Linked DNA regions of Homo sapiens: regions 2, 3, 4, 5 and 6 are each linked to region 1. The links come from fine-mapping of genetic effects on gene expression. A gene starts in region 1. Each other region holds a variant in brackets. All regions are shown on one strand. Distances are from middle to middle.

Region 1 (5,086 bases):
CCACCCTCTTGACAACAAGCCACACCCCCCTGGGAAGCCTAAGCTGGCGTCTATTCCTTGTCCTCAGAGGAGCCTCAGCCTAGCCTGGACTGGGTGCCCAACTCCCAGCATGGAGGCCCCAGCCACAGTGGGACCACTCACTGCGTCCATCCCACTGCTGTGGTTCCTACTTCCCCACCAGGTCCGACTGTCATTGCTGAACTGGACCTTGTATGATGTGACCCAGTCATACCTGGCAGGAGAGGTGGAGAGAGATCATCGGTGCCCCCAGGACTCCCACCCCAGTCCTTCTGTGACCTCCTGACCTAGGGTTAGTCTGCCTCACCTCCAGACAGAGTTCCTGCCCTGTGTGATAACACCCGAGAAGCGGGTGGGGTGCCCAGCGTCCACCTGAAACCATGGATCGGCGTCCTGCTCCTCAGCACACCAGGCTCCATCATATAGATCGCCGTCCTCCAGGCCTGACTGCAGACACAGGACATGGTGGTCAGGCCCAGTTGGACAGAGTGGGGCAGGCCAGGACAGAGAGGAGGCAGGAGAGAAGCTCCCAGGGGCTGCCTTCCCTACCCTGAGACCATGGCTCCGAGCCAGGATTACTGACCTGAATGTTGAGCCGTCCTCGGTGTGGTCCAAGACCAAAGGACTGGCTGCTGGATGCCTCAAGCCGGCTATCTGAAACTCGCAGGGACTCCAGACCCAAAGGAGGACAGCCTGGGGCGGGGATAGAACAGTGAGACAGGACCAGAGGGAGGGTAGCCAGGGCAGGTGGGAAGCTGAGCCTAAGGTTGCTCCTGCGCTAGGCAAGCAAGGGGCGTGCCGGTGCCCATGAGGCCAAGAGCTGTGCTGGTAAAGTGCCCCAGGGGCTGCAAGTCTGGGCTGGGCCCCTGGAGAGGAAGTACCTGTTTCTTGTTTCTCAGCGGGGTCGAGGGTCCCTGCTGGAGTGGGGGTCACAAGGGGCCCGGCAGTCACCAGTGGGGTGGGGCGAGTTAGAGTTAGCTTCTTCCGCTTCTTCATAATGACCTTTTTCTTCTTGATGACTCGAATCCGGACATGCTGTTCTGAGGTCCCTTGGGGTCCGAGAGGCACAGCATGGGGGAAAGGAAGAATGGTGAAACCCCGGATGGAAAGGTCTGCCAGCCCAAGAAGACATGTGAGCCCACAGCAGGCCACACCACCAGGATCTAACAGCCTTCACAGGACATCAAAGGCCTGCAATCTGACCCCAACCTGCCTCTCCAGTCACTTCCTTGGCTCCTCCTTCTCCTCCCTGATGTAACTACATGCTTGGCCAGCCTCCCCTGTGAACCTCTAATCCAATGGAGAGCTGCACCCAGCCTCTAGAAACTGTTCGGTTGCTCCAAAGAGCTGAGTCTGGCACTTTACCTCCGGGCCTCTGCACTAGCTATCCCCTCCCCTGTAATGCTACCCCTCGCCTCTGATTTTTTCACCTAATTCCCATTCTTCCTTTGCATCTCAGCCCAGATGCCTTTCCAAGGAGGCTTTCTTAGCTCCAGACTCAGCATCATGCCCCAAAACCCCTGTGCCGCTTCCATTGTTGTGTCTGCTCTCTGGGCTCAGATGGCCTGTCCTGGAATCCATGTCTGCCTGGGTGTCGAGGCTTTCAGGGCTGGGCCTGCCCGCCGGCCCTTCAGCACAAGGCTCTGCCCAGGCAGGTGCTGGGGGTACCCATCGAAGCTCCACAGCTGCCTCCAGAACAGGCTGCCCATTTCCGCATCTGGTGCCCCTGTGCCTTTGCCCGCCGCTTCCTTCTTGGCAGCCCTCTCTCTCTCTCTCTCTCCAGACTCCCCTGACTCGGGGACATCACCCTTCAAGACCCTCCTCCACTTGCCTCCTCTAGAAGCCCCTGAGTGCCCTCCGCTTGCGCTCCTCCTCTCCTATTCCACATCTGGAAAGCTGGGAGGTCGGGCTGCCTTCCTCTCCCGCTCTGCCCCATCCTCCCGGCAGCCTCAGCGAGGGGCTCTCCCTTCTTTCCTTTTGTTCTTTCTCTCCAGCCCTCGCCTTCAAACTCTCTCCTACGCAGTCTTGCTCTGCACCTTGAGAGCTTCTGCCCCTCTGTCTCCCCTCCTGCCAGTTCTGGCCTGTTTTGTCTTTGGTGAAAAGGGAAGGTTTGGGGCTTGGAAGAGGCAGCATCCCACTGGCGCCTGTCCTGGGACTGCTGACTAGGTCTGGCAGGGAACTGGGGCTGCCGAGTCAGCAGCCATTGCTCCCAGCAGGGAGTTGAGGGAGTGTGAGTGTGTATATGTGTGTGTGCACTGTGAGTGTGAGTGTGCGCGCGCGTGCACTGTGTGTGCGCGCACGCGCGTGTGAGTGTGCGTGTGTGTGCATGCGTGTGAATGCGCGCGCGTGTGAGTGCAAGTGTGCGCGTGTGTGAATGTGTGTGAGTGCGCGCGCGTGTGTGCGCGTGAGTGCGAGTGTGCGTGCGGGGTGAGTGTGCATGACTGTGAGTGTGCGTGGGTGTGCGTGTGCCCGCGTGTTAGGGAGGGATCGCCCCACGGGGCAGGAGAGCCGGGCAGTCGGCTTGCGGGGGAGCGGACCGTCGGTCGGGGAACTCACCGTTAGCTGTCTCCGCCGGCGGCTGTGCCGGGCTGCTATGCAGGGCCGGGGTCGAGCCTGGGACCTTGGTGGTCCCGGGCTGCGCGAGGCCCAGCACCGAGTTCCTGGGCGCCCCCAGAGCCGGGCCGACGGCCGGCGCGAAGGCGGCCAGGGCGAGCAGGAGCCCCCACATGGCGGGGATTGAGTGCCAGGGGCGCGCGGGCTACGGCGGGTGGCGGGTCGGTCTCTTCCTGCCGAGTGCGCCGAGCCCCCCGCCCCTTCCTGCCCCCCGCCCCTCCGCAGCCTCCTGCCCGCCCACAGCCCGCTGCCCGCCTCGGACCTCGGAGAGGAGGAGAGGGCCGGGAGGAGCGAGCGGGGCTGACCTCCAAGGGGCCGCCCCAAGTCTCAGGACCGCCGACTCTGCCCTTCCTCTCCGCCGTCTGGGGCCAACCCGCCTCGTTGGCGCGCTGCGCCTTTATAGTCTGCAAAGCCACACTGAAGAGACCAGAGATCACCTGGTGGCCATCAAGTCGACCAACAGGAGGCAAAGCCCCTTATCTGAGCAATTCAGAATGACACTTCCCTATTGTCTAAAGCCACATCTGGTACCAAGCTTCCGTCCCAAGAATTTATAAGTAACTAGAATTTCTGTACGTTTCCGGAATGAGTGCACGTTAAGACCCATTGTGCAAACTTTGCTGACATCAAGGCACCAAAATATCGACAAATGTAACCATTTACCATGACCTAAGTGACTAATGTGGTCCAAATTACCCTGCAGTTCCCCGCAGGGAGCTCAGTCCTCTCTTGCTGAAGCGCCTACTGCGCTCTGCTGCCTCGTCCTTTCCGTCTAATAAAACTTTCCTTTTCAGACCTACACGGTTGTTGATAAGTTCTTTTACCACCCGGGAGCCAACCACTTCCCGGTTCCGGAGCTCTGACACCTCGCCTGGCATCTTGGTGGCCCATACGGGGACTTCACTGGGATTTCCCTCTTCCTTTTTCTCTCTGCTTCCTTCCACGGTCTGGTTCTTTACTCTTTGGGGAACTGCCGGTCCCGGTGGAGGCAGCTCTTCTGTGGGATCCTGAAGCCCTAGAGAAGGGATACCTGGCTGTCCTTGCCCTTAGGGGTGAGGGACTGGCCAGGGCTCTTTTCTGTTTTCGGACTGCCAGTGAACCAGCTTGAGTTCTCGTTGGCAACTGACAGTTTCTGGCCAAGCGCCATCCCCCGGTATTACCCCAAGGCCAAGACAAAAGAGCTATTGCCTGTCAGAGTGGCAGGGCACTTTCATTTTAACACTCCATAAGCCTTGTCCTGGAAGCGGTGGATCTCAATTCTACACAGGGATGCCTCAGGGATCTTGTAGTTCCTTGTCTAAACCCAACTTCGGTTCAATTAATTCAGTTCCATCCAACTCGCCCTTGGATTGCCTCCTTAAAAATGGTCCCATTGGTCTCATTTTGACCCACAAACTCTTAAAAATAAGCATATAAGGCTGAGCACAATGGCTTATGCCTGTAACCCCAGCACTTTGGGAGGCCAAGGCAGGCAGATCACCTGAGGTCCGGAGTTAAAGACCGGGAGTCTACTAAAAATGCAAAACTTGGCCGGGCACAGTGACTCACACCTGTAATCCTAGCACTTTGGGAGGCCGAGGCGAGTGGATCACCTGAGGTCAGGAGTTCGAGATCAGCCTGGCCAACATGGCGAAACCCTGTCTCTACTAAAAATACAAAAAAAAAAAAAAAATCAGCCAGGGGGCTAATTATATGTGGCGGGCACATATAATCCCAGCTACTAGGGAGGCTGAGGCAGGAGAATCACTTGTACCCCGGGGGCGGAGGTTGCAGTGGGCCAAGATGGCGCCACAGCACTCCAGCCTGGGCGACACAGCAAGACTCTGTCTCAAAAAATACAAATAAAAAATAAATAAGAGTTTAAAAAGCATATCCTTTTTTCTAATATTGCTTGGGTTCAATACAAGCTCCCTAATCAATCAATTTGGCCAATTAATGAAACTTGGGATTGCAATGCTACTTTACAACTTAACTGATTTTTTGCCGGAACCTTGGAAAGGATTCAGAAGTCCCATATGTTCAGGTCTTTTTTGCTTTATCCCCAAATCCAAACCCAAAATTACATACAAATTGTCATGTATGCTTCCAAGGAACGTCCTCCCTTCCCGGTTCTGATGTCTTAGATGATCCTTCCTTTTGCCTATTACATCCTCCTCAACCTGCTCACTCTTCACCTACACCCTCTCCATCTGCTCCATTCCCTAGTCAATCTCCCACCCACATACCCAAATACTTTCTCCCCTTCACATACTCTCAGGGGAGTCACATATGCTACTAGTACAGAGTCCTCAGAAAAATCCCCAAAATATTTTGCCTCTCCCTAAGGTGGCTAATGAAGATTTGGGAACAAGCCAAGTTCATGTCCCTTTTCTGATCATGTCTGATCTTTTGCAAATTCAATCCAAGTTGGGTTCATTTAGTCAGGATCCCTCTAAGTTCATTCAAGAATTTCAGA
Region 2 (5,086 bases), 160 kb after region 1:
CACTCCAACCAGAGTGAGAGAGCAAGACCCTGTCTCAGTAAATAAAAATAAATAAATAAATAAATAAATAAATAAATAAATCAGCCATAATTTATTTAATCATGTCTCTCTCCCCCATTGATAGACGTTAAGGGTATTTCCAGTATTCTTCTCTTGAAAACAATGCTACATTGAATAACCTTGTACATGGGTCACTTTGAAAGTATGGATATGTATCCGTGGAATAAGTTTCCAGAAGTGGAATTGTGTCAGAGGGGTTGTGCATTTGTAATTCTGATGAATATTTATAGATTATATGAGAGTACCTGTTTACTCAAACTCTTGCCAATGCAGCATTATCAAAGTTTTTTATGTTCGCCAGTGTGATAGATTAAAAAATGGTATCTCAGCCAGGCGCAGTGGCTCACGCCTGTAATCCCAGCACTTTGGGAGGCTGAGGCGGGCAGATCACGGGGTCAGGAGATCGAGACCATCCTGGCCAACACAGTGAAACCCTGTCTCTACTAAAAATACAAAAAATTATCCAGGCGTGGTGGCGGGCACCTGTAGTCCCAGCTACTCGGAAGGCTGAGGCAGGAGAATGGCATGAACCTGGGAGGCGGAGCTTGCACTGAGCCGAGATCGCGCCACAACATTCGAGCCTGGGCGACAGAGCGAGACTCCGTCTCAAATAATAAAAAAAAAAGATGGTATCTCAGCATTGATTTCTTTGATCATCAGTGAGGTTGAGCATCTTTTCATAGATTTAAGAGAACTGTATGGTTTTTTGTGAGTTATGTTTCATATCGTTTACCCATTTTACTTTTAGGCTGGAAGCAGCTGTTTTAGTGGAATGGTGGAACAAGAAGCCAGATTGCCATGGAGAGACAACTCTTTCTAGAGATTTGGCTATGAAGCAGAGTAGAGACAATGATAGCTGAAGGATTGATGTAGATGCAAAGAAATTTTTCATCTTCTTTGAAAACTTAATTGTGTTAAAAACTGGTATGAAAGGGAGGGGTTAAAGCTAGAGATGGTGGTAGAAAAAAATGCAGGGTTCCTAAAGGACTGAGATTCCTGGATGGAATTTCAGGGAAGGGGAAAATTTCTGGATATAGTGACTGGGGAGTTAAGGGTGTCTAGTCCAATGGCTTTTATTTTCTTGGAAGGGTAGGCAAGGCCAACAGCCACATGTGTGGGAGGAGATGGTTAGAGGGGAGAGGAGGTTTGAAGGCACCGCTATGGAGAATTGGAGAGAGCTAAGGAAAGACAGAAAGACTGCAGAAAGTGCTTAGGGTTCCACTGAAGCGGAAATAGTGATTTGTAGTGATACAACCCTTATGAGTTATTTGATTTTTTTTTTTTTTTAAGCAGCATCTGGCAGTCCAAGTATAGGGCTGACAGTTTGGGATTTTTCTTTCCATGTTGGTGTAAAAGAAGAACAGTGTAGTGAAGGAAGTTAGGACAAAAGAATGATTGAACTGACACCAAGTTTTCTTGATTTGGTAGAAAAGGAAATAAAGATAGAGCAGAGATATTGAAAAGAATTAGAGAGGGGTTCAAGAGACTGAAGGCCTGGGTGAGGTCAGAGAGCAGGTGTGGTAGACATAACAGAGAGAACTACAAGGATAGAAAGTGTGGTTGGAGAGTGGGAAGGCAAGATTTATTCAGTATGGGGGCTTTTCTGGGTGATGACAGCATCTGGAGTACAGCCATTGTCGTGAGTGGCCCAAGTGTAGCAGAGATAAAGCGTTGTTGGAGTGAAGGAAGTCAAGGAACTGAGAGGCTGGCCTAGATGGGGATTTTGGTTGTCATCCATGAGGATATTGAAGTCATCCAGGAGAATAGCAGGCCTGGGGGACAGGAAGGAAACTGAGCCACTTACAGTGTCTTCAGTGATAGGAAAGCACAGGGCAAAAAGCTTTCAAGAACAGGGACTGTTAAGCCGGGTACAGTGGCTCACACCTATAATCCTAGCATTTTGGGAGGCCAAGGCGGGTGGATCACTTGAGGTCAGGAGTTCAAGACCAGCCTGGCCAACATGGTGAAACCCCATCTCTACTAAAAAAAAAAAAAAAAAAAAAAAAAAAGAAATACAAAAATTAGCCAGGCATGGTGGCACGCGCCTGTAATCCCAGCTACTTGGGAGGCTGAGGCAGGAGAATTGCTTGAACCTAGGAGGCGGAGGTGGCAGTGAGCCTAGATCACACCACTGTACTCCAGCCTGGGCAACAGAGCGAGACTGTATCAAAAAAAAAAAAAAAAAAAAAGAACAGGGACTGTTAGAGCAGGCTCCAGGAGAAATGCTTTGCATATGGCATTCTTGAGGAGTGAGGAGGACCTCAACCCTACTTCCTGAAATGGAGCTCTGAGATGTTGGAGTAGAAATTTGGAAACCAGAGAGAGAAGTAAGGATAGTGTTGTTGCAAATGCATTGTATATGGGGGGTCGGGAAGTCACAGGAGTTTGCCTCAAAGTCTTTCTCGGAGACGGATGAGGTTTTCACTGTGATTTTCCTGGTCGTGGTCTATGGATATAGTACCTGTTAGTGACATGGATCTTCTTAACTTCTGATGTGTCTTTTCCTCCCTAGTGTACGCATACCAATTCTCTCCACAGCTTCCATCACCATGCATTTGTTCTTTTCCCTTGTTCTTGTATTACCTTTCTGGAAAGGAATTTTTATTGTAGGCTAATTGTTACTCCCACCAGTATTTAACCACTGGATATTTCATATGATTGATCTCTTCTGATTTGGAAAATAAAAATGTAATCTCATTATATTCATTTGATTAGTGGGGACAGTCAACACTTCTTTGTGTATTTTCTTAGCTGTTCGTTTTTCTCGTCTGTAAATTATCTGTTTAGGTCCTTCAGATTTTTCAAAATTGGACTGTTATGTTTTCAGTATTGTTATGAGTTCTTGTTTCAATTATTTATGACAGTTCATTTTCTTTTTTAAAATAGACTTTTTTTTTCTTAGAGAAATAAGAAAAAATAAAAATTAAAATAGACTTTGTGTTTTAGAGAGTTTCA[G/C]GTTCACAGCAAAATTGATCAAAAAGTATGGAGAGTTCCGGCCAGGCGCGGTGGCTCACACCTGTAATCCCAGCACTTTGGAAGGCCAAGGTGGGCAGATCACAAGGTCAGGAGTTTAAGACCAGCCTGGCCAATATGATGAAACCCCATGTCTACTAACAATACACAAATTAGCTGGGTGTGGTGGTGCACACCTGTAACTGTACCTACTCAGGAGGCTGAGGCAGAAGAATCTCTTGAACCTGGGAGGTGGAGGTTACAGTGAGCCACAGTCATGCCCCTGCACTCCAGCCTGGGCAACAGAGTGAGACTCCGTCCTAAAAAAAGAAAGAAAGAAAATATAGAGCATTCCTAAATACCACCTGTCCCCAACACCTGCACAGCCTCCTCATTATCCACATCCTACACCACTGTGGTACCTTTGTTGCAATTGATGGACCAACATTGACTCCTCATTATCACCCAAGCTTTGGTGTTGTACATTCTGTAGATTTGGACAAATGTATAATGACATGTGTCTACCATTGTAGTATCATACAGAAGAATTTGACTGCCCTGACAGTCCTCTGCTCCACCTGCTTACTCCTCTCTCCCTTTTCCTAACTGCACAACCACTGATTTTTTTTTTTTTTTTTTGAGACGGAGTCTCACTCTGTCCCCCAGGCCGGAGTGCAGTGGCGCCATCTTGGGTCACTGCAAGCTCCACCTCCCGGGTTCATGCCATTCTCCTGCCTCAGCCTCCCGAGTAGCTGGGACTACAGGTGCCCGCCACCACATCCGGCTAATTTTTTGTATTTGTAGTAGAGACGGGGTTTCACCATGTTAGCCAGGATGGTCTCGATCTCCTGACCTCGTGATCCGCCCACCTCGGCCTCCCAAAGCTGGGATTACAGGCATGAGCCACCACGCCCTACCTTTTTTTTAAAAAACAAGGTCTTGCTCTGTCACCCAGGCCTGAGTGCAGTGATGATCACTCCTCACTGAAGCGTCGACCTCCCAGGCTCAAGTGATCCTCCCACCTCAGCCTCCTAAATAGCTGAGACTACACACACACACCACCATGCCCAGCTAAGTTTTGTATTTTTTATAGAAATGTGGTCTTGCTGTGTTGTCCAGGCTGGTCTTGAACTCCTGAGCTCAAGCAATTTGCCTGCCTTGGCCTCTCAAGGTGTTGGGATTACAGGCATGAGTCACCGCACCTGGCCTTTTTTATTTTCTTTTTTTTTTTTTAACCAGTGATCTTTTACTGTCTCCATGGTTTTTCACATTGGCTTCTGTCACTTAGTAATATATGTTTAAGTTTCTTCTACGTATTTTCATGTTTTTAGCTTATTTCTTTTTAGCAGTGAGTAATATTTCATTGTCTGGATGTGCCATCACTTATTTATCCATTCGCCTGCTGAAGGATATCTTGATTGCTCCCAGTCGTGGCAATTATAAATAAAGTTGCTGTAAACATCCATGTGCAGGTTTTTTTTAAGTGGCATAAGTTTTCATCTCATTTGGTTAAATACCAAGGAGCACAATTGCTGGATCATATGGTAAGAGCTTATTTATTTTTTTGAGAGACTACCAAGCTGCCTTCCAAAGTGGATGTACCATTTTGCATTCCCACCAGCAGTGAATGAGAGTTCCTGCTGCTCCATATTCTTACAAACATGTAGTATTGTCAAATGTTTTGGATTTTAAAACCAAAATCCATTTTCATAGATGTGTAGTGGTATCCCGTTTTAATTTGCAATTACCTAATGACTTGATGTTCTGTGTCTTTTCAGATGCTTATTTGCCGTACTGTTTATCTTCTTTGGTGAGGTGTCTCTTCAGGTCTTTTGCCCATTTTTAATCTGGTTGTTATTTTTCTTGTTGAGTTTAAGAATTCTCTGTCCTTTGTCAGATCTATCTTTTGCAAATATTTTCTCCTAGTCTGTGGCTTATCCTCTGATTCTCTTGGCATTGTCTTTCACAGAGTAGACATTTTATATTTTAATGAAGTCCAGACTATCAATTATGTTCTCATGGATCATGCCTTTGATGTTATATCTAAAAAGTTCTCGCCATACCCAAAGTCATC
Region 3 (5,000 bases), 320 kb after region 1:
AAGCCCTAGGAACACCGGCAGTTCCTGCCCATCCCACCGGCTTCAGGCTTTTCTCCTCCTGGAGAAACTGCTGGGCAGACATGAGCCACCTCGTGGCTCAACTGCAGAACTGCACGCTCCTTTTTTTTTTTTTTTTTTTTTTTGAGATGGAGCCTTGGTCTGTCGCCCAGGCTGAGAAGGAGTGCAGGGGTGCCATCTCAGCTCACTGCAACCTTCGCCTCCTGGATTCAAGCGATTCTCCTGTCTCAGCCTCCCAAGTAGCTGGGACTACAGGTGTGCGCCACCACGCCTGGCTAATTTTTTGTATTTTAGTAGAGACGGGGTTTCACCATGTTGGCTAGGAGATCTCCTGACCTCGTGATCCACCTGCCTCAGCCTCCCAAAGTGCCGGGATTACAGGCGTGAGCCACAGCGCCTGGCCTCCTTTCTAAAGGCCTCCTTGCTGGCCAAGAAAATAACTGGGGCAAGCAAACGCCAGCTTTGGACTGCTGCTCCCTGCCCCCCATTCCCTCCCCAGCGGCCTTAGTCTTCTCTTTCCCTAACTCCACCCTTCTGGGGACCCCACCACCCCCCAGAGGGGTTCATCTGCATTTTCTAGGTGTTCATGTCCTCTCTCTCCTGTTAAGTAAAACAAAGCAGTTTTTACCGAATAGAACTAAGACCCCACGTTGACCACGCCACAATTTAGGGGACCTTTAGTGTAGGATCAACAGAAAGCCAAGCCATGGAATGAGGGTGAAGGCCAAAGGGGTAGGGGGACAGCTGCCCAAGAAAGACCCCAGGGACCTGTGTGGCAGAAAAATTTGCAATGCTGTCTCAAAGAGGAGAATGGAAACTTTTGTCCACTGTTTGCAGGACACAGGACATCAGCTCAGGGCCTTGAAGGAGCCCTAGTCAGCGTGGTCCTGAGTCACCAAGTCTGTCAAGGCCAACAGGACTGAGACCTCCACAAACTGACGCTGAAGTCTAAGGACCTTTTTCCTTGTTCCACCCCACTGCGCCTCAGATGTTTCCAGGAGTTTCTGAAGGTCATGTTAACTAGAATTTACTCTTAAAACCAAAGACACAGAAATAAACGTTAAGCATAGTATTTGCATAGTCTTTTAGAAGAACATAGGAAACTAAAAGAATGATCAACCTAAACAGAATAATTTCCATAAGGAAAAAGAAAAGGTTGCCAGGCCAGGCACAGTGGCTCACACCTGTAATCCCAGCACTTTGGGAGGCTGAGACAGGCAGATCGCCTGAAGTCAGGAGTTCAAGACCAGCCTGGTCAACATGGCGAAATCCTGTCTCTACTGAAAATACAAAAATTAGCCAGGCGTAGTAGTGCGTGCCTGTAATCCCAGCTACTCGGGAAGCTGAGGCAGGAGATTCGCTTGAACTCAGGAGGCAGAGGTTGCAGTGAGCCATAATCACACTACTGCACTCCAGCCTGGGTGACAGAGCGAGACTCCATCTCAAAAAAAAAAAGGAAACGTGTCAAAGAGCTACCCTCCACAAGCACCAAGCACTGACAATCACAAGGACTTCTACTAGACAGGCAGAGTGGGTATTCCAATACTATTCAATTGTTCCACAGCACAGAAAAGAAAAAATTCTAAATTCTTTCTATGGAACAAAAAAATCATCAATGACACCTGACCAAAGATGGCACACACACACACACACACACACACACACACACACACACACTACAGTCCAACCCCACTAATGAATACAAAAATCCTAACACTAGCAAACAGAACCATTAAAATCTATTAACAGGGGCCAGGCGCTGTAGCTCATGCCTGTAATCCCAGAGTTTTGGGAGGCCAAGGCGGGTGGATTGCCTGAGCTCAGGAGTTTGTGACCAGCCTGGGCAACATGGTGAAACACCGTCTCTAATAAAATACGAAAAATTAGCCGGGTGTGGCGGCATGTGCCTGTAGTCCCAGCTACTCAGGAGGCAGAAGCAGGAGAATTGCTAGAATCCAGGAGGCAGAGGTTGCAGTGAGCCAAGATCGCACAAGTGCACTCCAGCCCGGGCGACAGAGCGAGACTCCGTCACTATATAGATAAATAAATAAATAACAGGGCTGGGCGTGGTGGCTCACACTTGTAATCCCAGCACTTTGGGAGGCTGAGGCAGGCAGATCAC[C/G]TGAGGTCAGGAGTTCAAGACCAGCCTGGCCAACATGGCGAAACCCCATCTCTACTACAAATACAAAAATTAGCCAGGCATGGTGGCGAGCGCCTGTAATCTCAGCTAATCAGGAGGCTGAGGCAGGAAAATCACTTGAATCCGGGAGGCGGAGGTTGCAGTGAGCAGAGATTGCGACACTGCACTCCAGCCAGGGCGACAGAATGAGACTCTGTCTCAAAAAATAAAAATAAAAATAAAAAAAATTAGCCAGTATGGTGCTGTGCGCCTGTAGTCTTGGCTACCGAGGCAGGAGAATCACTTAAATCCCAGCAGCAGAGGTCGCAGTGAGCAGAGATTGCGTCACTGCTGCACTCCAGCCTGGGCGACAGAGGGAGACTGTTTCCAAAAAAACAAAACAAAAAGAAACCATTAACAGGCCGGGCACTATCGCTCATGCCTGTAATCCCAGCACTTTGGGAGGCTGAGGCAGGTAGATAACCTGAGGTCAGGAGTTCAAGATCAGCTTGGCCAACATGACAAAACCCAGTCTATACTAAAAATACAAAAATTAGCTGGGCACGGTTGTGGGCACCTGTAATCCCAACTACTCTGGAGGCTGAGGCAGGAGAATTGCTTAGACCAGGAGGCAGAGGTTGCAGTGAGCCAAGATTGTGCTATTGCACTCCAGCCTGGGTGACAGAGTGAGACTCTGCCTCATAAAAATACAAAAATCAGCCAGGTGTAGTGGCTCACACCTGTAATCCCAGCACTTTGGGAGGCCGAGGTGGGTGGATCATGAGGTCAGGAGATCAAGACCATCCTGGCTAACACAGTGAAACCCCGTCTCTACTAAAAGTATTAAAAAAATTAGCCAGGTGTGCTGGCGGGCGCCTGTAGTCCCAGCTACTCAGGAGGCTGAGGCAGGAGAATGGCGTGAACCAGGGAGGCGGAGCTGGCAGTGAGCCAAGATCGCGCCACTGCACTCCAGCCTGGGCGACAGAGCGAGACTCCGTCTCAAAAAAAAAGAAAAAAAATCAGCCAGGCGTGTTGGCACGCACCTATAGTCCCAGCTATTCCAGAGGCTGAGGCATGAGAATTGCTTGAACCCGGGAGGCAGAGATTGAAGTGAGCCGAGATCACACCACTGCACTCTACCCTGAGTGACACAGTGAGACTCCATCTCAAAAAAAAAGGAAGGAAGGAAGGAATTATTTAGGTTGAATTACACAGAAGTTTGTCACTGATCTGTGTTCTCGAACTAAGAAATATGAAGATGGAGGCTAAGAAATCATTTCTCTTAATATTATAAATAAGCAATTAACAAATACCTTGGGAAAAATAAGAATACAATAGAAGTGAGGAGTGTGACTTTCAAGATTACATTCTAAAAGATGGATTTCCCTCGTCTGTGCACTCTCTCTGGAACGCACAGCTCCCACACAGTACACTGCCCTATGGAGAGGCCCACAAGGCAAGGAACCGAGGGCAGCCTTGGGCCAACAGCCAACCAGCAAGTGAGGCCTCAGTCCAACAATGCATCAACGAGCTGAATCTTGCAACAATGATGTGGGTGAGACTAGAAGTAAATGCTTCCCCAGTTGATCCTTGAGATGACCACAGCCTCAGCCACCAGTTTGATGGCAGACTTGGAAGACCCTGAAGCAGAGAATCCAGCCAAGTTACGCTGGGATTTGTGATCCACAGAAGTTATGAGACAATGAATGTTTGTTGCTGTAAGCCAGTAAGTTTTGGGGTAATTTGTTACCTAGCAATAGATAACCAATACTTCTTTAACATGATAAAAACATCTATCTCAGGCCAGGCGCGGTGGCTTATACCTGTAATCCTAGCACTCTGGGAGGCTGAGGTGGGCGAATCACCTGAGGTCAGGAGTTCGAGACCAACCTGGCCAACATGGTGAAAACCTGTCTTTACTAAAAATACAAAAAATTAGCCGGTGTGGTGGTACATGCCTGTAATCCCAGCTACTTGGGAGGCTGAGGCAGGAGAATTGCTTGAAGCTGCGAGGCGGAGGCTGCAGTGAGACGAGATTGCGCCATTGCACTCCAGCCTGGGTAACAGAGTGAGGCTCCATCTCAACAACAACAAAAAAACATCTATCTCAGCCTAAGATCCAACATCCAGCTTGCCCTGAGGTATTCACACTGAACACATTCAGCTGCAGAGGTCACCCAGTGAACCAGGGCTGCTCACCTCAGGAGAGAGCAGCATCACCGGCCCTAGAAATCACTGGCAATGCCCCAGGGAAGAGGCAGGAAGCCAGGATCCTTAAATCTCATACTCAAGAATGTTGCAGGCCAGGCACAGTGGCTTGCAGATCCCAGCACTTTAGGAAGCCGAGGCAGGTGGATCACGAGGTTAACAGGTTGAGACCATCCCGGGCACCATGGTGAAACCCCTTCTCTACTAAAAATACAAAAATTAGCTGGGCGTGGTGGCGCGCGTCTGTAATCCCAGCTACTCCAGAGGCTGAGGCAGGAGAATCACTTGAACCTGGGAGGCGGAGGTTGCAGTGAGCCAATATCACGCCACTGCACTCCAGCCTGGTGACAGAGCGAGACTCCATCTCAAAAAAAAAAAAAAAAACAGAAGTCGAGTGCAGTGGCTTACATCTGTAATCCCGGCACTTTGGGAGGCCAAGGTGGGTGGATCACAAGGTCAGGAGATTGAGACCATCCTAGCTAACAAGGTGAAACCCCGTCTTTACTAAAAATACAAAAACTTAGCCAGGCGTGGTGGCGGGCGCCTAATCCCAGCTACTCGGGAGGCTGAGGCAGGAGAATGGTGTGAACCCGGAAGGCAGAGCTTGCAGTGAGCCGAGATCATGCCACCGCACTCCAGCCTGGGCGACACAGCG
Region 4 (5,086 bases), 150 kb after region 1:
GCTTTCCCCCCAACCCCCATTTTTCTCCCATTTACCTTCAGAAAAATTAGTGATTTGGCTACCAGTGAATCTAGGCTCCAGGTGTAGCTCTGTAGTTTTGGACTAGTTACCTAATTCTTCATTCACAACAAAACAGAAGGAGAGAGGAAAAAGAGAGCAAACATGGAATTGGGATGGGAAGTAAGAGAGCACATGAGGAGAGAGACTATGTCAAGTTTCTTCGTATTCCTTTTTTAATTACAGAAGAAAAGATGGGATAAAAATATTCCATCTTATTTCTCTGTTTAAAAGAAAGAGTAGGCCGGGCATGGTGGCTCACACCTGTAATCCCAGCACTTTGGGAGGCTGAGGCAGGCGGATCACAAGGTCAGGAGTTTGACACCAGCCTGACCAACATGGTGAAACCCCATCTCTACTAAAATTACAAAAATTAGCCGGGCGTGGTGGCGCATGCCTGTAATCCCAGCTACTTGGGAGGCTGAGGCAGGAGAATCGCTTGAACCCGGGAGGCAGAGGTTGCAGTGAGCCGAGATCACGCCACTGCACTCCAGCCTGGGCAACAGAGCGAGACTCCTTCTCAGAAAAAAAAAAAATAATAATAATAAAATAAATAAAAGAAAGAGTAAATGAATCAAAATGAAGAGAAGCCATTTTATCTGCCTCCTGGATGAAGAGTTTCATTGATGAACCTGAAATGTTTTGGTTAACATGAGAAAGGAGGGTGAGAAGATGCCTGAGATGTGAGCTCCTTGAGGACAGGAGCTGCTTTCTCTCTCCAGCCTGGCACAAGACAAGGAACTTAGTTGAATGAATGAGCAAATAAGTGGTTCTCTGCTTTGAAGGAACTTGGACTGTCATTACCTTGCAAATCAGGTTTACCATTTATTTGCTTTATATAAGTTCCAGAAAGAAACTATTTCCTCTCATAATATTACTACCCTAAACTTCTGGTCTGATCTATGGATTGTAGAGCTTAAATTTCCTCAAACCCCAACAGTCAGAGATTGTTACACCAAGATAAATAGCATATTTCTCAGCGCCTTGTATTTTCTGTCTTTGGCCACAGACCTTAGGACTTAGGCTGATATTTGAGAAGGAAAAACTGGAATTTAGTAGAATTATACTTCCTGTATCTTAATTTTCCAACTCTTATATAAGGTTTGCTTTTTCTAGAGAGAGACTAATCTGGAATGAGAATGAATTCTCATCAGTAAAGGCAAAGCTTTAAGTGGGTCATCTGACTTTGCTTTTGTGCTCTACATTCACCCTGCTCATAAAAGGTCCTTTCATGAGTTTTCTAGGCTTTCATCACTGCCAGCGTCTCCACAGGCATTGTGAAAGTATTAAACTTCCTACCCTCCCCCATGCTTGTCTCATGGACTCTTTCGTAGAGTGCACAGTGGACTGTGTTTAGCTCAGCAGGAACTCTTTGCAAACACTGAATACATGAACAACCCCCCTGGAAAGATAAGAGATTTCAGTATTGCTTGGTGTCATAGCCGCAGAAGTTAGTGTCTGCCAGTATCTGATGAATATGGTGACTTGCAGCCTAATTTTTGTGAAATTATGAGGCCAAAGTTTAAGAAGTGTTCATGTTAAAGTTACTTATATATAAAATTTGCCTATCGATAATTTCTGTCAATAGGAGGTTGATGAATGCTTCACATAACCTAGATACTCCTAATTAACTGTTTTTTATTTCTTTTTTTCTAGGACACATGTTCAAAGAGCATAATTAACTTTTTAAAAGAAGCTAGTAAGTACTGAAATAGTTTTTTAAGTTTTTTCTACAAGAATAGAGGAAGAAAGGAAACATGGAATTCTGAAGGGCTACTTAGCAAGCTGCTTATGGCATAATCTGGGGTGGGGGTGCATAGTAAAGGATTTGCATTTTACTGAGACCGATACATGTCAAGGGAATGGTATTTAAAATTAGTGATATGTGTTGATTTTTCAAGGACTATAGCCCATCAACTACAATAGGCTCCAAAAAATTCTGGTGAAATTAGCTTCTTGGAGCCTTCCAGTTTACCTACTATGTTATTCCCACTATAAAATATTCTCAACTTTTGGGGTTTTAGCCACTTAAGTTTTTTATTTTCTCTAATGTCTCTAGTATCTGCTTTAGTTTCCTGTCAATGCTAGACTCTGTGGTTCAGCAGTTCATCCATTCTCTTCCCAGTACTCAACCTCGTTGCTTATAGTTTCATTACATTCATCTAGCAAAACCTTAATTCTGTATGTTTGCCATACCATTAGTGCTTAGAGCATTTTTTCAGAAAAGAATCCTGGAAAAATGGATCTTATCTCACCTGGGCCCTCAGGACTGCTGGGCTGCCTGGTGTCAGCACTTCCCGCCATTTTCTATAGCACCAGTATTATTCTTAATACTTTAAAAAACCACCAGGCACGGTGGCTCACGCCTGGAATCCCAGCACTTTGGGAGGCCAAGGTGGGCGGATCACAAGGTCAGGAGATCAAGACCATCCTGGCTAACAC[A/G]GTGAAACCCTGTCTGTACTAAAAATAGAAAAAAATTAGCTGGGCGTGGTGGCGGGCACCTGTAGTCCCAGCTGCTGGGGAGGCTGAGGCAGGAGAATGGCGTGAACCCGGGAGGCGGAGCTTGCAGTGAGCCGAGATTGCACCACTGCACTCCAGCCTGGGTGACAGAGCGAGACTCCGTCTCAAAAAAAAAAAGTAAATAAAAATAAAAAACCATATCCCACTATCTCCCCCTTCTCTCTTTGCCTGTGATCTTGCTGCATACTTATGGGGAAATCTTTAAGATGTCAGATTTCAGTTCTCTCACTTTTCTACAACTTCTCCCACTTTTGCCTTTCTTATGTACCTTCCCTTCCTTCCCATCTGATTCCTTATCAGTATTTACACATGATTAGTTCTTGCCTAACCTAATAGACCCTTTCTTGAGTGCAAATCAGTGGCTATTTTTGCTAGGGTATAAAAATTACCTATCTAATCACCTTGACAAAGTTACCCTGTTATTTCCAATAACTTACTTCCTATGGATTCTTGTAGATTTTCTTTTTTTTTTTTTTAATTTTTTTATTTTCAGATGTTTTCTCGCTTTGTCACCATGCCTGGCCTAAATTCTCGTAGGTTTTCTATGTAAACAATCAGATTTTCTGCAAGTATTAGTCTCCTTTCTAATTGTTATAATTTTAATTTCTTTTTCTTTTTAAAATTTTTCGTAGAGACAAGGTTTTGCTATGTTGTCCAGCCTGGTCTTGAACTCCTGGGCTCAAGCAATCCTCCCATCTCAGCCTCCCAAAGTGCCATTACAGTGGCATGAGCCACTGTGCCTGGCCAAATTTCTTTTCTTGTTGCGAAGGCAGACTTTTCATACAATACTGAATAGAAGTGATAGTAGATTACTTTATTTCTGATTTTCAAAGGAATGCTTTCCGTTTCTCTCTGTTGAAGATAATTGCGTATTGTTTTTTTTTTTAAATAGTAACTTTTATCAGGTTAAGGAAGGTTTCTTCTATTTCTATTTAAAAGGATTTTTTAAAATCTTGAATTCATATGTTTTTATCTAATGCATTTTCTACATCAGTTGAAATGGTTGTATGAACTCTTTTAATATGGGTGAATTATATTTATAGATTTTATGTTAAAATATCCTTGTATATCTTGGATAAACTCAACTGGATCATGATTTATCTTTTTTATATGCTAGATTCAATTTGTTGATACTTTGTTATGATTTTTGAATATATATTATTGTGTAAAAGTGAGCCTGTGATTTTCTTTCTTGTAATGTTTCTGTCCAGTTTTGGTGCCTGGTTTTGCTCTCTCCTTAGAATGAGCTGGGAACTAGTCACTCTTGTTTTCTCACCTATAATAGCATCTGGGTCCAGTGTTTTTTATGTGGGACAAATTTGAACTTGTGGTCAACCTCTTTAATTGTAAGAATATTCAGGTCTTTTGTTCTTCCTGGGCTAGTTTTTTATTCTTTTTCTAGAGATTCGTTCATTTTTCTTAGTTTTATTTGCCTATAATTGTGGATAATCTGTTTTTTATCTGCTACTTCTGTAATTATTTCCACATTTGATTTATAATATTAACTTGTGGGCCAGGCGTCGTGGCTCACACCTGTAATCCCAGCACTTTGGGAGGCCGAGGCGGGCGGATCACGAGGTCAAGAGATCGAGACCATCCTGGCCATCATGGTGAAACCCCGTCTCTACTAAAAATACAAAAAAAAAAATTAGCCGGGCGTGGTGGCAGGCACCTGTAGTCCCAGCTACTCAGAAGGCTGAGGCAGGAGAATGGCGTGAACCCAGGAGGCGGAGGTTGCAGTGAGCCGAGATCGCACCACTGCACTCCAGCCTGGGCGACAGAGCGAGACTCCATCTCAAAAAAAAAAAAAATTTACTTGTGTCTTCTCTTTTTACCTGTTTGTTAATTTATCAAATAACTACTTTTGGCTTTGTTTCATTTTTATTATACAATAAAATGAAATTCTTTTCATTGTATTTCTTTTCATTGATTATTCCTATAATTCTTAAACAACTTTATAATTGATGTAACAATAACCTGTACACATTTAAAGTGTAAAATTTATTACATTTTGATCCATGTATATAGCAGGGAAATATCACCACAACAAGAGTGTGAACATATAATCTCTCCCCAAAGTTTTCTTGTGTCTTTTATAATCACTGCCTCTTGCCCCTGCCCACTCCCTCATCCTTAAGCAACCATTGGTCTGTTTTCTGCCACTATAGATTAGATTGTATTTTCTAGAGTTTTATACAAGTGAAATCATGTAGTATAGTATTAACCATGTGTTTGTTTGTTTGTTTGTTTCTTTCTTTCTTTCTTTTTTTTTTAGACGGAGTCTCGCTTTGTCACCCAGGCTAAAGTGCAGTGGGGCGATCTCGGCTTACTGCCAGCTCCGACTCCGGGGTTCACACCATTCTCCTACCTCTGCCTCCCGAGTAGCTGGGACTCCAGGCGTGCCCGCCACCACGCCCAGCTAGTTTTTGTATTTTTAGTAGAGACGGGGTTTCACCATGTTAGCCAGGATGGTCTCGATCTCCTGACCTCGTGATCCGCCCACCTCAGC
Region 5 (5,086 bases), 46 kb before region 1:
GCGGGGCGGGGCGGGGCTGAGGGTGTCCTGTGGGCAAGGGGGTGAGGAGGGGCTCCCGAGGGCCCCTTGGTCGCCCCCAGGGGCTGCCCCTCCGTCCCGCTGTCTCTCCCCCTGTCCCCAGGAAGTGCTGCTGAAGCGGGCGGCCGACTTGGCAGAAGCCCTGTACGGAGTGCCCGGCAGTAACCAGGTATGGCGCCTCCGCCCTCCCAGCGCCGCCGGGACCGGGGCCCCCCAGCACGCGGCGCCCGCGGCTGCCCCGGCCGTGCCCCGCTCTTGTCTTCGCAGGAGCTGCTCCTGAAGCGCGCGGCGGACGTGGCCGAGGCTCTGTACAGCACCCCCCGCGCACCCGGGCCGCTCGCACCCCTGGCCCCGAGCCACCCACACCCCGCCGTCGTGGGCATCAACGCCTTCAGCAGCCCGCTGGCCATCGCCGTCGGGGACGCCACCCCGGGGCCCGAGCCGGGTGCGTGGGCCGCGCCTCCCCGCCGTCCTCGGGCGCCGCCACCGCCCCTCCCCGGCCGGCACCGCCCCCTGACGGCCGCGCTCTCTCTCGCAGGCTACGCGCGCAGCTGCAGCAGCGCGTCCCCCCGCGGGTTCGCGCCCAGCCCCGGCTCGCAGCAGAGCGGCTACGGCGGCGGCCTCGGAGCTGGCCTGGGCGGCTACGGCGCGCCGGGCGTGGCCGGCCTCGGCGTGCCTGGGTCCCCCAGCTTCCTCAATGGCTCCACCGCCACCTCGCCCTTCGCCAGTGAGTGTCCCCCGCCCGCGAGGGAAGGTCTGGGGCCGGGGAGCGGAACGGGACTCAGCCCCGCCCCCGCCCATCCCGGAGAGGTTGGGGCGCCGGCGCCGTGAGAGTCGACCCTGGCTCAGCCCTCGGGGTCAGGCCCACCGTCCCCGCCTGGGACCTCCCCTGCCGCAGAACCTCAACCCCACCCCTAGGCTGCACATCCCGGGGTCCTGGGGCCAGAGTACTCCGTGCACTTTTAGCCTTCTTTGCCGGTCCGTTATGCACATCGCTTCTAGGCCTCCGGTCCCCCTGAAGTGGGCTCTAATGGGTGGCGGGCGTCCATCTGAAACCTGGGACACCGCCCCCTTCCCATCTCGCGCCCGGACTTGGGGAGGAGGCTGGCGCCGCCTGCCGGAAGCCTAAGGAAACTCAGGGCTCGAGGGAAGCCGGCTTCCAGCCGCCCCCCAGCTCCCAGGACTCCAGAGGCCAGGTGGGCGTGGGGAGGATGTGGTCCCCGCGATGTCGTCCGGCAGAGCGAGCGAGTTCTGTGTGATCAGACAGAATTTGAGTTTCAGTGTCCAAATCAGGAGCTGCCGGGCATTCAGCAAGTTACTTATTTGAACTTGTTTCCTCGCAGTCAAATAGGGTCAATTCCACCCCCTGCTTAAGGTTGATCTCGGATCTGAATGTGCCACTGTGCCTAAAGGGCCAGTGTGTGATTTCGGAGTCCCAGCCCTGACTGTGGGCGCTGACCACATCCCATCTGGCTTCTTAGAGTGGGGAGCTCAGAGCTGGGTGGACAGGCAATGTCTGCATGTCATGAGTGAGTGACCTTCCGAACGGCTTTGATGCCTTGTCATTTTACACTGCCCTCAAGACTCTTCCATCATCAAGTTCCAGATCAGCATGTTCACAGCTCTTTTTAGCTTAGCTATTCAGCAGGCATTTATAAAGCGCCCACTGTATGCAAAGCCCAGGGCTTGGGGGATCCCCCCACTCCTGTCACCTGCAAGAAGCCTCCCTATCAATCATAAGAGAGATTGTCCCTGAAGTCCCAGGCGACTCTGCCGAGCTGGAGAGGTGGTGAAGGCTGTCCCAGAAGGAACTGGTCATGGCTTTGCCCGTGGTGCCCTCTCCTCTCCCTGTCCCATATTTGCCATTGCCGAGACTGCACTGTCTGTCCACCAGCCTGGCTTTCCTTGCAGGGCGTGTGTCCTGCCTGCTTTCTGGCTGAAGGCTTGAGCCTGGCCCTGTCCTCTGGCCTGGGCTCAACTTCTGGGACCCAAGGCCCCATAAGCCAGAGTCCACATAGGCCATGGCCTTCTGGTGTCCCTCCCAAGGCCCCTGCCTCTCCTGGCTCTTTGCTCAGGCCAGGATTGACTGCTCCTCCTTCCCTTCAGTTCTGGGGCAGTACCCTCACAGCCTCTCTGTGGGCACCCCCTTGGGCCAACACTGGTGGGGGTATGGAACATCACATACACTGTGGTCAACAGTAGAGGAACACTCTGCCCCAGTGTGCAGAACCCAGCCCAGCTGGGGTCTTCTGATTCAGCAAGAAGATCAAGAATTCTAGAGCTGCTTAAACCCAGCATCAGCTGGAGACACACTGGACTTGAGGGAGGGTTGGTCCCATTTCATGATATTGTCTTGACCGAGGCTTACCCAGGTACCCTTCCACTCCCCACGTTCAGGGTGCTTTGTGGCCCGACTCCAAGGGGTGTCATTCTCATTGAGTTTGCGAGAACATTCCTGGAGTGACATCAGAACTGCCCCAGCCAGAGGCTCAGGGGCTGTTTGCTTGGGTCTCTCTTTGTTTTTCTGCTTCAGCCACCAGCAACCCTGGAATGAATCACAACTCCCCACACTACCTACCCAAGGTACAAAATGTGGCCGTGAGCCCTGGGCATTGAGAGCTATAGTACATTTTCTGGCATTGGTCTCAAGCCCTTCATCGGGCTCTGGGGCCTCTCCAGCTGGCAGTAACTGTTGTCTTAAAGGAGATGAGGCTGAG[G/A]GCATTTGGAAGAGGGGCAGCTGTTGAAGGCATTCTTGTATCAAGGGAGGTAGGAGGGCCCTCTGATGCCAAAGGCAGCCTTCTCAGGCTATTGCTTTCTTCCAGGAAGCCCCACCCACCCCACTGCCTGCTGCCTGGACAATACTCAGATCACAGCCTTACCAGTCTTTACAGGAGAGAGGCAGGGAATTGGGTTCAGATGAGGATGTAGAAAGGTGGGATCCAGCGATGCCCCAGGCCTGAGCCCCCAGGAGAGGAGGCTGCAGGAAGAGGGGGCAGGCAAAGTCTGTGTGCAGGAGGCTCCCTTGCCATTCCCAGGAGGGCAAGCCGCAGCCTGGGTGGCTAGGGAGTTTGAGAGCAGGAAGATCTGAGGATGTACATCCCTGCAATTTGCTTTAAAATTGACCAGCTGGAAGTGGGAGATTCAGGAGACCACCCCCCCCCACAGGGCCCAGGCTGGAGATGACAAGGACCTGCATTAAGCTGTAAGGAAACAAAGTACCCCAGGGTGCAGGGGGAAGTGGGAGAGGGACAGAGGAGCATAGGGAACATTGGCAAGGAGAGCATATTTGAGGAGGAAGTTGGAGTGCTGTTTGTGATGCTGGGCAGAGAGGCTTATAACAGGAGCCTGTGCGTTCCCCCAAACTTCATCCCTAACTACTTGTTCCAGCTCTTCTGTGACTCCTGAACTATGACTCTAGCCTTGGCACCCCAAGCAAGGCTCATAAATGTTTCCTAGCATCTCAGAATCCCAGGGGTTTTCAGCAGAAATCCTGAAGTAGTCCAGCTGTTGCTCATCTCATTTTTGGGGGGTACCTCCCACTGTTTGTTTTTTTTGAATGTTCTGGTTTTGCTTTTGTCTTTACCTGGTCTGGCCCTGTCATCCCCAGCCCCGAGAAAAGGTCTCCAGAACCGCTGAGAGGTCAGGGCTGGCCCAGGACCCTCACAGCTCCCAGTGAGATCTGAGCCTGGTACCTGTGTCAGCAGCCCATGTGGGGCCCCAGCCAAGCTGCTCACTCTGGTGCTGTCTCCCTGTTGTGTCTCCCACCACCTTCCCTGCTGCGCCTGCCCCTCCCCGCCCCGCCCCGGAGTCATGCCCTCTAGCCCCCCGCTGGCGGCTGCCTCCTCCATGTCCCTCCCGGCCGCTGCCCCCACCACCAGCGTGTTCTCCTTCTCGCCTGTCAACATGATCTCCGCCGTCAAACAGAGGAGCGCCTTCGCCCCCGTGCTGCGCCCCCCAAGCTCCCCACCCCAGGCCTGCCCCAGAGCCCACGGAGAGGGGCTTCCAGGTGAGTGATCCACCCTGCCTCACTGTGGCAGGAAGGAAGGGCCCTTGTGGAGCAGCTGGGCTACAGGGGCCTGCTCTGTCCACATCTCACCAGTGCCTCATGCTGGCTAACCTGCTCTTCTTGGAGGACGGAGAGCAGGGAGCTCTGCTGGGGTCCAGGGAGGTCCCTCTGGCCCCCTCTGCCCTGGCCTCCCAGCCTGGGATGGTCACCATTCTGGATGCTCTCAGTTGACCACTTGGCCAAGGGGAAGAGACTCAAATCACAGTTGATGAGGTCTAGAAACTACCCCAACACTCCATCCCCATCCAGCTGAGCCCAGAGCAAAGACCCTCAGAGCTGGTGGGCTGCACGCCTGTACCTGTGCCTCCCTGTGTCCACCAGAGGGTAGCACACACCACTGTGAGGGACTGGGTCGCTGACCATGGAAGGGGACTGACCTTAGAAGAGGCTTAGCCCAGCTTCCCTCCCCGCATTTTACAGATTAGGACTTGAGACCAAGTCATCTTCCCACATCCCATTCATGAAATGGCTGTTCTCTCACTTTACCCATGTGCAGCAGAACCTTTGAACCAGCAGAGCCTTTCCTATCCACGTGGTGATTGGAAACTCACTGGGAGGACAGAGGAAGGGACTGGCTGTGGAAAAGGAGGAGGCAACAGGATGTGGGTGGGGCAGAACAGGTCCTTGTTGATGGGGATGGTGGGGGCCAGGGCCAGTGTCTTCCCTAAGAGGCTTACAGGTGTTTTCTTTTCTGGCTAAGGGATGCTTCCACGGGATCCCCTAGGACTCAATCTGGCATGCAGCAGGTGTTTAATAAATAGTCAAATTATTGAATGAATATATGAGTCAGAAGGGCACCGTTCACACCCACACAGAAGGCTGCAGTGCAGTTTGTGGGGCACTGATCTGGAAGAGGTTGGGTTAGAGCACGTCCTATTGAGTATTCCCCAAGACAATAATGGGTCAGAGCAACAGAGCATTAGGAAAGAATCAGTGTTGAAATTACGTAAGTGGCTACTGAAGAATTTGTCAGAGCCTTTCATGTGCCAGGGTACGTTGTGA
Region 6 (5,086 bases), 870 kb before region 1:
AGTGGATCTGGGGTGCCCTCATGACCGCTCTGTGGTTCACTCCAGATGAGAAGGAACGTTTCTGTTCCTCAGGAGTGAGATTTCTGCCTGTATCCTGCAGCAGGGGTTCCTCCGTAGCTGTCAGCTACAAATATATTCCCCCCTGGCACCTCAGCATGGTTTTTGTGCTGTTCATGGATGAGTCTCGTGGGCAAGTGTGTACAGACCCATGAGTGTGCCCATGTGGCTCGAGACATCTAAGAAGGTCCAGCCAGATGTTCTCAGTTAATGATGCCTGCTTAGTGGTGAAAAGCAGTGGTGGGTTTGGTTTTCTGTTTTTAATCTGCATACGTGAAGCCTCTATTCCATGTGGTCCCTAGAGAACACTGGATCTAATGAACGGAACATCTATATTGTGGTGGGTGTGGTGTGCACCTTGCTGGTGGCCCTACTGATGGCGGCCCTCTACCTCGTCCGAATCAGACAGAAGAAAGGTGGGTGCATTCCCCTCTTCCTCCCTAAGGGTTTGTCCCTGGACTGTCCTCGGAGGGAGACGCCATTAGGTGCTTTGGGTTAAGGACATCAGCTTCTGCCAGTAGCAAGAAGTCCAGAGGTAGTGGTGCTAGGGCTGGGGCAGTGGCCTCACCATGTTAGAGTCTGGGTGGGTCACTCTGTGGCTTCCCCCTCATGGTTACAAGATGTTCATCACTGCCCCAGGCCCCGTGTCCTCAAGGGGCCACTACTGAGCAAGGGAGCTGCCAGCCTGGGAAGAGAGGAGGCAGGGACTCTTCTTACCTGTCTCAGGGAGGACATCGTCTTTCCCAGGAGCCTCCCGGCAGACTTCTGCTTTCCTGGTACAAGTCTAGGTTACATGACCAGTCCCTGGACAGGAGGCCAGAGGGAATGGAGATAATAGCGCCACCATTTGATTGGGAGGACTTAACAAGTGATTGCATGGGAAATGTTAGGGAAGTAACCTGGCACACAAGTGCTCAATGTATGTCAGCCCTGATTATTACCCGTATTGTATGTGAGCCCAGAAATATGAGCCACCTCCCTAGAAAGCCCCCTCACAGGGCAAGGTGCATAGCCTTTGACTGCACAGCAGGAGGGCACAGGGTCAAACCCAGGACACCGCTTCCCCTTGTTTGTGTGCACGTGTTACGTGTGTGTCTGTGTGTGTGTGCTGGTTGTTGGGAGGGTTGGTTGTTGCTGTGGCAGGGCCTCTGACTTTGAAGTCAGACAAACCAGGGTTCCAGACCCTGGTTATATACTGTAAACAATCAATTTGGCCTCTACAAGCCTCAGTTTCCCCATCTGTAAAATGGGTTTAGCAACGCCTGTCTTGGAGAAGTTACAAGATCCAAATAAGCCCATGTGAAATAACGGGTCTGACACATTCTAGGATCGCCATAAATACATGTTCTCTTTCCCACTCTTGGAGAAGACAATTTTAAGCTGGTATTTCTGCAACCTTTTTTTATTACAAGAGATAGAAATACATTTCACATCTCAACCCAACACATACACACACCCTTTGTATATAAAATTAAAACTGATATTTTCTTTTTTGTCATATTCTTTTTTCTGTTTAAAATGCTGGTTGTGACCCACCGCCTCCAAAGGGACAAGTGCTGTCCCGAGCTGCCTTTCTGTGGCCTGGCACAGCTGAGCTTGGTTGGGCACATTGTACACTAATCACGCATCCCTTCAGTAGCTCCTTCACCTCTGCCTCCCAAGTTTCCCTCCCTCCTGGGCTGGCTCTGAGATACTGGCCAAGCCTGATGCTTCTGTCTGGGAGGGTTGGAGTCAGGCCCTGCTTCTCCAGAATCTGCAAGACGTCCCACCAAGACGTCTACCCAATGGGTTCCCTAAAGTTCCTGGAGAGCCCCACACAGGGAGGACTCCTCCTTGGATGGGGAAGCAGGTCCCTTCCCCACCAAGGGTGACAGCCCATCCCATGGGATGAAGCATTCATAGCAGCCGATAGTGAAATCCTGGCCATCCTTTCTGAGTCTCAGGCCCAGGCAGCACGCCAGCTCCTGGCACACGTGAGCTCATTACTGTGGGCTTAGGTGTTGCAGAGGAATGGAGTTTGCAGGGCTGCAGCTCTGGTAAAGGCCACCCAGCCCGAGTGGCAGGTCTGTGTGCAGAGCCTAGCTCTCAAACACAGGCTCCAGTGACAGGGACGGCTAGTATCCCCCAGCAGTTCCAATGTGCCAGGCACTGCTCACTGTGCTTTCCCTGTAGTAACAGTCAGTGCTCACCACAGACCTCATGGGTGACATTACTAACCCCACTTTACAGATGAGGAAACTGAGGCATGGGAAAGTTATAAAACTTGTTCAGGGCCTCACAGCCAGGAGGTGGTGGGGCCAGAATTTAAACCCAAGGACCATGTCTAGGACCACCTTGCACACTACCTCCCTCCGCCATAACTAGACCCCCCTTCTCCCTCATTAGGCCCTGGAGGGGTCTGCCCAGCCTCTCAATGCTCACAGTGAAATGTCCTGATTTCAACTCAACCACTACCCAGCTGTGTGACCCTGAGGAGTCACCTAGTCTCTCTGGTGTAAAAGGGGGTGACTGGTGTCCTATCACTGGATTCCCAGAGATGACTTGTGTCCAGCACTTTGCAACCTGTCAGCCTCCACTCAGACTTTCGGTGCTGAGCACAGCTTCCAACTGGTACACCTCATCTAAAGA[T/C]CCAGGACCTGCCCAGGCAGCAAGCGTTAACCCAGCAGCAAGAATTCTTGCACTGTGGCAGCCTCCAGCCTATTAAAGTGCGGTGCAGAGTGCATTTGGGTGTGCATGTTGCTTTTTAATTACAATTTTACAGCAAAATGGGAGTCAAACGGCTGCTGAACCCTGGAGGCTTCTCTGTGGGTTACCCCATATCACAGGTTTAAAACCTCTGAACCAGATGGACACTTTCTTTCCTTCCAAGATCCTTTTTTTGGAAAGTGGTGGCATGTAAATAAATGGATGCTCAGCCCAACCCTGCAAGTTATAGAAGCTGAGAGAGAGGAAGTGACCCACCCGGGGTCACATGGTGAGTGAGTGGGTAGCAGACCCGGGGTTCACACATGATCCCCGATTTGCAGCCCTGCTAGAATCTGTTTTCAAGCCACGAAGGGCACTGATTGGGACCTAGGCTTGTTGGAGGGTCTCCGCTGAGGTTTGTGGTTGAATGGAGGTGAGACCCAGACAGAGGTAGGGCGGTTGTCGCCTCCCAGGCTGAAGGCTGCTTTTGGACCCCTGGCAACTTCCAGAAGTGGAAAAGCAGGACCATCTAGCTTACTCCTTCCCAGGCTTCCTTGGTGGAAGAGGATGCCCACTGGGTGGGCATGGGGGTCTCCTGTGGTTCCAAGGATGTGATTACAGCATTTCCTCTCCATGTCCCTGGAGGCAAACCTTTTGCCAAAAAATAGTTACATAAGAAAAGTGTGCTTCTAGTTAAACAACTGGCTTTTGTTTCTTTTGTCTTTCAGCCCAGGGCTCCACTTCTTCTACAAGGTAAGTGCATCATTGGTCCAGACCCTCTTGCAGTTATTATTTGGTTATTTGACAGCCCCCCAGACTACAAAGCATAATCCATGTCCACTGACCTCACCAATGTGTTGGTCAACATGTCTCTTTCTCTCCTTTGTAACCTCCTCACACTGGGTCACGCTGTTTTTAATTATTGTCCCAAATGAGGGGTTTTTTTGGTGCACAGAGGTGCTAATTTCTTGCCTGCTCTTCCCAGACAACGAGACCCTTGTCTAATCCCATGTGGACTGGGGCAGAGACCTCCCGGGCTTTCTGTCCTCACAGACATCCTGCACACGCCACCGGATGCATCCTCCCAGATCCAAGTTGTATACTTTACTCTTTCCTTTGTTTAGTAAATATTTATTGAGTACCTTGGCGTGCTGTGACCCTGGAATGCCGGGATGAGTAGGATAGAATCTGTGCCCTCTGCAAGCTCACAGCCTGGTCAGAGGCTCAGACGGTGACATTACATCACTGATGTACGTCACCGATGGCACTTTAGTTTGTTGATTCACATTTTTAGTGACTTGAGTCCCTACTATGTGCCAGCCCTGCTCAGGACCAGCTGGTGATATAGCAGTAAACAAGAATCAGCCCAGGCTTTCATGGGGCTCAGACGCCGGTGAGAGAAACAGGCATAAACGCAGAAATAAAGTGATTCATGGTGTCATATCAGGTGGTGACAACTCCTACCCTGCAAGGAGATGGAGGTGAATGGTGGGGGGCTGTCTTAGGCAGAGGAAGGGACTGCCTCTGAAAAGGGGATGCAAACGGGTGCCTGAAACTAGTGAGCTATGTTGGACAGGAGCATGCTGGGCCAGAGAGGAGGCCTGTGTGCTGGGCCAGAGGGAAGGAGAGGAAGAAGATAAGGTCAGGAAGACCCAGGTCCTCGGCATCCCGGTGTCCTTTGCAGATGCCCCTGCAGTCAGAGGTGTTACGAACTATTCTGTGAAAAGCCTTTATCGGCTTTTTGGAAGGCCTCTGATCTTCATCCCCAGCAGAGCAGAGGCAGCACACCATCATCTGCCATGTGAACCCATCTGCATAGAACCATGTGGACATCCGTGCTAAGAGTGATAAATAAAACTATAAATAGCTTCATGTTGGTTCACACCAGGTTTTGCCAGCAACTGCATAGTGCCAATCTTTTGATGGTTTAGAGCTTTCTGGGTTTCAGAATTACAGAATAGGACATGATGATCTGGAGTGGGGCCTGTGGGTGTTAGAAGGACTCGGGATTTTATCCGCAGTGGGATGAGGAACCAAAAGATGGACACGATCTGACTTTTGTTTTAAAAGTGTCGCCTGGCTACATGTGGAGCCCAGACTACAGGAGGTGAGGATGTGTAGGTGACCATAGCGGTACTGGTCCAAGCAGAAAAAGATGGTGACCTGGACCAAAGTGGTGGGATGGGCTGAGAAGTGCTCAGATTCTGGATATATTTTGAAGGTAGACACAAGAGGACTTGCTGATAGATTGGCTGTAGGGTTAAGGACCACCTCAAGGTTGGGGGCAGTGGAGTGCTGTATCCTGAGTTGGGGGGTGCAGGTGATGGGTGGAGTGATGGGGCAA

Direction of the effects. Alleles are on the strand shown, and positions count from the first base shown. SD is a standard deviation of normalised expression in the study named. Not every link is listed here.
For the expression in iPS cells of the gene that starts at base 2,801 in region 1, A is the high allele of the variant in region 4 and G is the other (moderate effect, 0.73 SD a copy in iPSCORE).
In carriers of allele G in region 5, the expression in thyroid of the gene that starts at base 2,801 in region 1 tends to be lower than with A alone (moderate effect, 0.46 SD a copy in GTEx).

What was found. PIP is the estimated chance that this variant, and not a neighbour inherited with it, causes the effect.
Region 2: its variant is fine-mapped to the expression of CPXM1 in whole blood (TOPMed, PIP above 0.99).
Region 3: its variant is fine-mapped to the expression of CPXM1 in aorta (GTEx, PIP above 0.99).
Region 4: its variant is fine-mapped to the expression of CPXM1 in iPS cells (iPSCORE, PIP 0.95).
Region 5: its variant is fine-mapped to the expression of CPXM1 in thyroid (GTEx, PIP above 0.99).
Region 6: its variant is fine-mapped to the expression of CPXM1 in thyroid (GTEx, PIP 0.96).

What each region holds. Positions count from the first base shown.
Region 1 is chr20:2,797,827-2,802,912 of GRCh38, forward strand. It overlaps CPXM1 (carboxypeptidase X, M14 family member 1), which reads right to left and starts at 2,801. Exons shown (of 14, transcript NM_019609.5): 1 at 2,575-2,801; 2 at 900-1,067; 3 at 602-711; 4 at 326-465; 5 at 142-232. The coding sequence starts at 2,746. RefSeq lists enhancers at 383-1,370, 1,371-2,358, 2,359-3,344.
Region 2 is chr20:2,956,617-2,961,702 of GRCh38, forward strand. The region is part of intron 3 of PTPRA (protein tyrosine phosphatase receptor type A); the gene reads left to right. Among named protein-coding and RNA genes, the nearest start is that of GNRH2, 84 kb to the right of the region's middle. The variant G/C (reference allele first, on the strand shown) is at 3,016.
Region 3 is chr20:3,115,634-3,120,633 of GRCh38, forward strand. All of the region lies in intron 3 of UBOX5 (U-box domain containing 5), which reads right to left. All of the region lies in intron 5 of UBOX5-AS1 (UBOX5 antisense RNA 1), which reads left to right. Among named protein-coding and RNA genes, the nearest start is that of UBOX5-AS1, 11 kb to the left of the region's middle. The variant C/G (reference allele first, on the strand shown) is at 2,141.
Region 4 is chr20:2,946,269-2,951,354 of GRCh38, forward strand. PTPRA (protein tyrosine phosphatase receptor type A) reads left to right here. Exons shown (of 24, transcript NM_001385305.1): 3 at 1,714-1,756. Among named protein-coding and RNA genes, the nearest start is that of PTPRA, 75 kb to the left of the region's middle. The variant A/G (reference allele first, on the strand shown) is at 2,500.
Region 5 is chr20:2,751,801-2,756,886 of GRCh38, forward strand. EBF4 (EBF family member 4) reads left to right here. Exons shown (of 17, transcript NM_001395167.1): 12 at 122-187; 13 at 286-463; 14 at 557-745; 15 at 3,827-4,024. Among named protein-coding and RNA genes, the nearest start is that of CPXM1, 46 kb to the right of the region's middle. RefSeq lists a silencer at 425-604. The variant G/A (reference allele first, on the strand shown) is at 2,736.
Region 6 is chr20:1,924,405-1,929,490 of GRCh38, forward strand. It overlaps SIRPA (signal regulatory protein alpha), which reads left to right. Exons shown (of 8, transcript NM_001040023.2): 5 at 360-473; 6 at 3,471-3,495. Among named protein-coding and RNA genes, the nearest start is that of PDYN-AS1, 20 kb to the right of the region's middle. The variant T/C (reference allele first, on the strand shown) is at 2,686.